Linked DNA regions of Homo sapiens: region 1 is reported to be linked to region 2. Evidence: microRNA targets listed by miRTarBase, many of them from high-throughput screens and not tested one by one. Region 2 holds a microRNA gene; the other region holds the end of a gene's coding sequence.
The links. The annotated mature microRNA hsa-miR-671-3p reads UCCGGUUCUCAGGGCUCCACC and lies in region 2 at 1,002-1,022, opposite strand. An mRNA with a match to its seed (bases 2 to 7 or 8) in the 3' UTR can be bound and repressed. Matches are read on the target gene's strand: a 7mer-m8 pairs with bases 2 to 8, a 7mer-A1 pairs with bases 2 to 7 and ends in A, and an 8mer does both.

Region 1 (3,394 bases), not on the chromosome of region 2:
CACTCTGCGACCTTGAGCAAGGTCCTTAAAGCTCTCCATCTTCCCATTAAAATGGAAACGGACATCTATTAAGGTTGTTGGGAGGAATAACAAGATTACTGGGTATAACAGGAGCTCAGTACTGCACTCCAGCCTGGCCGGCAGAGTGAGACTCAGTCTCAAAAAAAAAAGCGCTCAGTAAATACTACTTTCATCCCACAAATTTCTTATTCAGAGGGCACTGGAAAGGTCGGTACTTAGATGCCCAGTGAAAACCCCTCACCCCAATCTCTGCCCTGCCTGCAGGAGCCCTCGTACTCGGTGCTGGTCTTCTCTTCTCTCTCCGGTCTGTGCGCTCAGTGGTGCTTCGAGCTGGAGGGCAGCAGGTGACCCTCACCACTCATGCCCCCTTTGGCTTGGGGGCCCATTTCACAGTTCCTTTGAAGCAGGTATCTTGCATGGCCCACCGGGGTGAAGTCCCTGCCATGCTACCTCTGAAAGTCAAAGGCCGACGCTTCTATTTCCTCTTGGACAAAACTGGACACTTCCCTAACACAAAACTCTTTGACAATACTGTGGGTGCCTACCGGAGCTTGTGAAGAAATGACCTCAAGTCACTCACCTCTCCAAGAGGAGGATAAAAACTGAACCTTGGGGAGCCAGGTGTGTTGGTTCACACCTGTTGTAATCCCAGCACTTTGGGAGGGTGAGGCAGGAGCACTGCTCGAGCCCAGGCTGGGCAACATAGCGAGACCTTGTCTCTATTTACAAAAAAAAAAACAAAAAAAAACGCCAATCTTAGAATGGAGTAACAACCAGGGTCACACAAGGAGGTCAAGATTCATTAACAACAAATAAAGGAGCAGTCATCCCTAGGGCAGCTGCCTAACAGTACCTCTAAGTTTCAGTCCATGTCTGCTTAGCCTTCACTCCTTCCTCCTATCTAGTTGTACTTTAACATCAAAAACTCACTACTAAGATGAAGACAGTAATATAATATTTTGGTACAAAAACAGCTGCAGGAAGAGGTGGAGGGGGGCCTGTCATTATGTTTCCCCCCCACCCCCCAACGAAAGGAAAACTAAGACTCCCAACATAAACAGGGCCTTGAGGGGGGGGATTACAGGCACTTGGGCATGGAGTCTTCGGCTGCAGGAAGCACTCCGCTTATTCTTCAGGAATGGGAAAGGCGTGACCCAACGAGAGCATCTGTCTCAGAGCTCCACTCAGGGTCACCCCTCTCCAGAGGCCGGTATGGGGTGGCTTCAGACTTCCACTGCACGACCTGGAGCACCAAGACCACACACCACAATACCAAATTCACCCAAGAAGAGGTCTGTAGGAGACAGGGACAGGATCGTCAGGAGTGGGACCATTTCAAATCCAGTCCTTCCCACCCACACACCACTCTGAACTGCTGAATTTTAAGCTGACAACCCCTTCAGCTCCTCTCACTGGTAGGCCAAGCTCACAATACACTGGTGAGCACCCACACAGCTACAGATATTTATGTCAGTTTTTCCTCCTATCCTTGGGTCTCACTTCAGCATTGTGTAGGTTGGAGTAAAACTGCAGAGCAGTTCCAGGGGGTGTCCATGGAATTTTCTGGGCTTCAGAACAGCTGTGAGGTCAAAGAGACAGTTGTGAGAAAGCGTGATAGTTTATATCCGAGGCACACCTGTGCCCAGTGCCCTGTGAGTTGAGAGCAACTGATGGGGATAAAAGGAAATTATAGGACCCCGCTGCAGAGGGAAGGTAGTCAGCCCCAGCCAGGCTTCCCTCCCTCTCCCATTACCTAATTGTAGTGTTCAAGGAGATGATGGAGTTGCAGAGAGACCTGGTGCCAAATCGAAGGATACAGGCAGACACCAAGACCAGGAAGACGGCTATAGCTGAGATGGCCAGTGCAATGCGCAGCCCTATAGCACCTCTGAAAGGGAGAGAACAAGCCTTGTGGTGGAGGTGAGGCTCATCCTACCTCAGCCCCTGGCCCTCAGGGTTAGGCAGTCACCTGTGGGAGTCCTCGATGCAGCTGCTGTAGATCCAGAAGAGCAAAAGCAGGAGGCAGTAGAGGGCCAAGAGGCCAGAGGCCCCAGCTACAAAGTAGCACAGGGATGGTGCTGAGGGACGGGATAAGGCCAGGGAGGAGCCATTCAGGGTGGCCACACCATACAGGGGACATCTACCACTGAAGGAGCCCTGTGGAGAGAAGCTGCTGAGTCCTAGATTTCAGGTTAATGTCTCTAGATACAGTCTCTTGGTAGGGTGTTAGTGATAACTTAGGAATGGTCCTGCATTCCAGGAAGTTATTTGTGCACCGTCAATTCCTATTTCTGGGACAGGGATATTGATGGAGAGGGCCTGCTGGGGAATCACACCGGCAGTGGCCAGAAGGATCAGAAAATAGGCAATGAATATAGAATGCAATGAGCTTCAGAGAAGCCTCACAAGTTATGGTCTCTGTGCAGAAACCTTAGAGTAAACCCAGGCCTTGTATATCCTTCAACAAATAACTATCTGTGAGGTGCTTTTTTTTTTTTTTTTTGCTGGAGTGCAGTGGCGCCATCTCGGCTCACTGCACGCTCTGCCTTCTGGGTTCATGCCATTCTCCTGCCTCAGCCTCCTGAGTAGCTGGGACTACAGGCACCCGCCACCATGCCTGGCTAATTGTTTGTATTTTTAGTAGAGACAGGGTTTCACCGTGTTGGCCAGGATGGTCTTGATCTCCTGACCTCGTGATCCGCCTGCCACGGCCTCCCAAAGTGCTGGGATTACAGGCGTGAGCCACCAGGCCCGGCCAGTGTTTTTGTTTTTGTTTTTGCGATGGAGATTCGCTCGTCACCCAGGCTGGAGTGCAATGGCACGATCTCGACTCACTGCAACCTCCGCCTCCCAGGTTCAAGCGATTCTCCTGCCTCAGCCTCCGAAGTAGCTGGGATTACAGGCATGAGCCACCACACCCGGCTAATTTTTGTATTTTTAGTAGAGACAGAGTTTTGCCATGTTGGCCAGGCTGGTCTCGAACTCCTGACCTCAAGTGATCCGCCTGCCTCAGCCTCCCAAAGTGCTGGGATTACAGGCGTGAGTCACCGCGCCCGGCGGATCTCTGAGGTTTTCTCATGGTGTAAAATAGGCACACTAGTGCCTACTTTATAGGCATTAAATGAACCCATGTTTATTAACCAGATTACCTGGCTGGGGTAAACGATGTAAATTATTGGCTTCTACCTTTACGTCAGCGTTTTCTCCATCTCTCATTTTGTCATTTAACACACTGTGCTACAATCATGTGGCAGCTTGATCATCTCCACTACACTATGCTTTATTTCTCGACAAAGCTCAGCACAAATGGCTTCTGATTTAACGGATGGACGCAGGTTCTGCACTGACTTCTGTTTCGGAACCACAGTAAGGC
Region 2 (3,394 bases):
GCTCCCTCCCAGGTGATGACAGATGTAGCCGGCAACCCTGAAGAGGAGCGCCGGGCTGAGTTCTACCACCAGCCCTGGTCCCAGGAGGCCGTCAGTCGCTACTTCTACTGCAAGGTATGCAGGGACCCTTGCCCTGAGGCTTCCCCATCCTCAACTCCAAGAGAAACCTCCCTGTTCAGCTTGTGGGCAGCCCTCGCAGCTCCCCACAGTAAAGCTTCACCACGCTGCCTCACCATGCAATGGCCCTCCCTGCTCCCAGATGCTCTTTCAGGGCAGGCGGTGTCAGTAGGTGGGATTGTCCTGATCACTCACCAGAACACTGACACCTGCTCCTGTTCTCACTTCCTCTAAAGATCCAGCAGCGCAGGCAGGAGCTGGAGCAGTCGCTGGTTGTGCGCAACACCTAGGAGCCCAAAAATAAGCAGCACGACGGAACTTTCAGCCGTGTCCCGGGCCCCAGCATTTTGCCCCGGGCTCCAGCATCACTCCTCTGCCACCTTGGGGTGTGGGGCTGGATTAAAAGTCATTCATCTGACAGCAGCCGTGTGGTCATTGGAAACTGGGGAGGGGAGGGGGAGAGAAGGGGAAGGGAAGAAGGTGGGGAGGCAGTGGGTCCCTCGGGACGACTCCCCATTCCCTTCCCTTGGATTCTTCTCCTTACTCAATTTTCCCTAGACCTAAAAACAGTTTGGCAGAAGACATGTTTAATAACATTTTCATATTTAAAAAATACAGCAACAATTCTCTATCTGTCCACCATCTTGCCTTGCCCTTCCTGGGGCTGAGGCAGACAAAGGAAAGGTAATGAGGTTAGGGCCCCCAGGCGGGCTAAGTGCTATTGGCCTGCTCCTGCTCAAAGAGAGCCATAGCCAGCTGGGCACGGCCCCCTAGCCCCTCCAGGTTGCTGAGGCGGCAGCGGTGGTAGAGTTCTTCACTGAGCCGTGGGCTGCAGTCTCGCAGGGAGAACTTCTGCACCAGCCCTGGCTCTACGGCCCGAAAGAGGTGGAGCCCTGAGAACCGGAGGAAAACATCCATCACCTCCAGCCCCTCCAGGGCTTCCTCCTCTTCCTGGCCTGCCAGTTCACCTGCCAGCCGGGCTCGGGCCGCCAGGTAGTCAGCGTTGTAGAAGCAGCCCTCCGCAGAAGCCTGCCGGTCAAATCTCCCCCCTATAGGAGCCCCCCGGGAGGGGTCAGCACCAGGAGGGGAGGGGGGGTCAGGGCCAGCCCCCGGGGGCCCTGGGGGTGATCTCTGTGGTGACAGGGCAGGATTGAACTCCTGGAAATGGACTGGAAAGAAGGCCTGCCAGCCAGAGATGGCATTCATGCGACAGCGGTTGAGGACTTCGGGCCCAGGCCTTGTCCACACGGTGGTAAGGAAGAAGAGAGTGTCCACAGGGTGCTTCTTCGAGACCACGTCCATGAGTCGCACCTGGGAAGGGGCCTCTGCTCGCACAGCGAGCCAGGCCAGCCTCGTCCCAGGGTACCGTCGCTCTAACTCCGCTGCTGCAGCCTTCACCCCAAGAAATGGGTCTGGAGCTCCACGGCCACCTTCTCGTGGCCCGTAGACCAGCAACAGGGTGAGCAATGCATGTTCTCGTGGCTCCAGGACATTGGCTGCAAAGGCCTCGAGGAAAGCCGGGGCTGCAGCAGCTTCAGCCACCAGGAGTGGCAGCACCAGCTGCACTCGGGTGGCCTCAGTGACATAGGGCATAGGTAGGATTTCCACCCGGCTCAGTGGCCGCAGCAGGCTGACCCTGCGAGCCAGGGCCCGCCGGTGCCCACGCTGTGTCACACATTCCAACAGCAGGTCCAGGGTGTACTCCATGCCCCGTGCTGGGTCGAAGCGCCGATAGCCGTTGAGCAGTCGCTGCTTCTGGAAGCGCAGGCGGGGCTGATAGCGCCGATTGAGCTGCTCCAGGGCAGTCTCCAACGCATCACCCACGTCCGCCCTGCTAGCCCCCTGTAGTGGGCACTTGGGAGCCCCATCTGCACAGGAGAAGGTGTGCTGCTCTGTGAAGTAGTCCCAGCCCAGCACCTCAAAGCGAGAGTGTGGTGTGAAAGGAGCAGGGAGCCCAACGGGCCAGCTCAGCCCTGCCTCCCCTTCGGGGGTCAGCACGGTCAGGTTCCGGATCTGAGCCTGGGTTGGAGGGAATGCACCTCACATTAGTGCCAGCTCCAGGATCCTACCCAGCTCCAGCTGCCTGGGCTCTGAGATTCAAACAGCTGAGCTCTGTCCTAACTCCATCAACACTTAGTGAGGGGTCCCTTGCTAATCACTGAATCCCTTGTACGTTATTCTTCACCTCTAAAATGCAGATGGAATAGGAATCATACTCACCTTACACAAATGCCATGAGAAGGAGGTGGAAAATGTGCTTTTTGCACAGGTAAAAGTATCTTGAAATAGAAGCTCAACAGCCTTTCTCTCCTACACCCAAAGGACTCACATCCTCTTCATAATCACACCTTTGTTTTCATCTACACTCCACCTCTGCCAAGCCTGACGTTCAACTTGAGAATTCTCCCTTCTACCCTTGGGCTTTCTTGGGACAGTTCTAGAAGTAAAGAAACTTCAGAGTTTTTGCCTCCTCAGTGGACAGGCACTATTGAGGAGGAGCTAAAACTATTCTGTCTGAACACTGTGCGGAGCTTCCTGATCCTCAGAGTCTACTTGCAAACCCCTTTAGCTGCATTCAAGTTGTGCTGGGAGCTTACCTTATGATTGCTTTGGACCCCCAAAGACCTTTGTCCCTGTAGTTGCTTTAAATTTAAGTATGGTCGGCCTCTTCCTGCCCTGCCATTATACAGGGCCTAGCCCAGCCCCACTGCCAGCTGCTCGTTCATTGCACGCCTGGACATCTCAGGCTCTCTCTGACCCTCTGACTGCGGTCCTCTGCCCACCTGCTCCTCTTCAGCTCACCTGCAGTTGTTCTATTTCACTGTAAGCCCGCTCCAACTCCAGAGCGCTGAAGCGTTTGTGGAGCCGGTACATGAGGGTACCTTCGGAGACAGGGTGCACGGCGAAGGCACTCAGGAAAGCCGAGCTCCCTTCCTTCTCAGGGTCCCTATTTTTGGCCAGTTCAAATGAGCGATACTGCTGCCCCTAGAGGGACAATCAGACCAATCAATGACACACACAAGAGCTGCCAGTCCCAAACCGCCCTTAACCATACTCAGTGTTCACATCTGTTAGCACTGCTGCGTTAGAACAGAGGACAGAAGAGGCACCCTTTCCAGCACCTCGCTTAACCCCAGTTCTTTCACTGCCCACATTTTGGAAAGTAGAAAGCAAGTAGGCAACTAAGGACACTCTCGGCTACTCTCAGTGCATTGCTTACAGGCTAGCCCTGCTCTGCAAGGAGCCATCACAGAAATAACATATTAAAAATAATAAT

Region 1: the mRNA of TMEM223 is a reported target of hsa-miR-671-3p. The part of its 3' UTR that is shown has no 7-base or 8-base seed match.

Annotation. Positions count from the first base shown.
Region 1 is chr11:62,787,807-62,791,200 of GRCh38, reverse strand. TMEM223 (transmembrane protein 223) reads left to right here. Exons shown (of 2, transcript NM_001080501.3): 2 at 286-1,230. The coding sequence ends at 578. It overlaps TMEM179B (transmembrane protein 179B), which reads right to left. Exons shown (of 5, transcript NM_199337.3): 2 at 1,991-2,178; 3 at 1,775-1,909; 4 at 1,522-1,600; 5 at 801-1,315. The coding sequence ends at 1,154. It overlaps MIR6748 (microRNA 6748), which reads right to left and starts at 1,386; the gene lies at 1,316-1,386.
Region 2 is chr7:151,236,116-151,239,509 of GRCh38, reverse strand. MIR671 (microRNA 671) reads right to left here and starts at 1,089; the gene lies at 972-1,089. CHPF2 (chondroitin polymerizing factor 2) reads right to left here. Exons shown (of 4, transcript NM_019015.3): 3 at 2,920-3,102; 4 at 688-2,136. The coding sequence ends at 829. It overlaps SMARCD3 (SWI/SNF related BAF chromatin remodeling complex subunit D3), which reads left to right. Exons shown (of 13, transcript NM_001003801.2): 12 at 13-114; 13 at 354-730. The coding sequence ends at 407.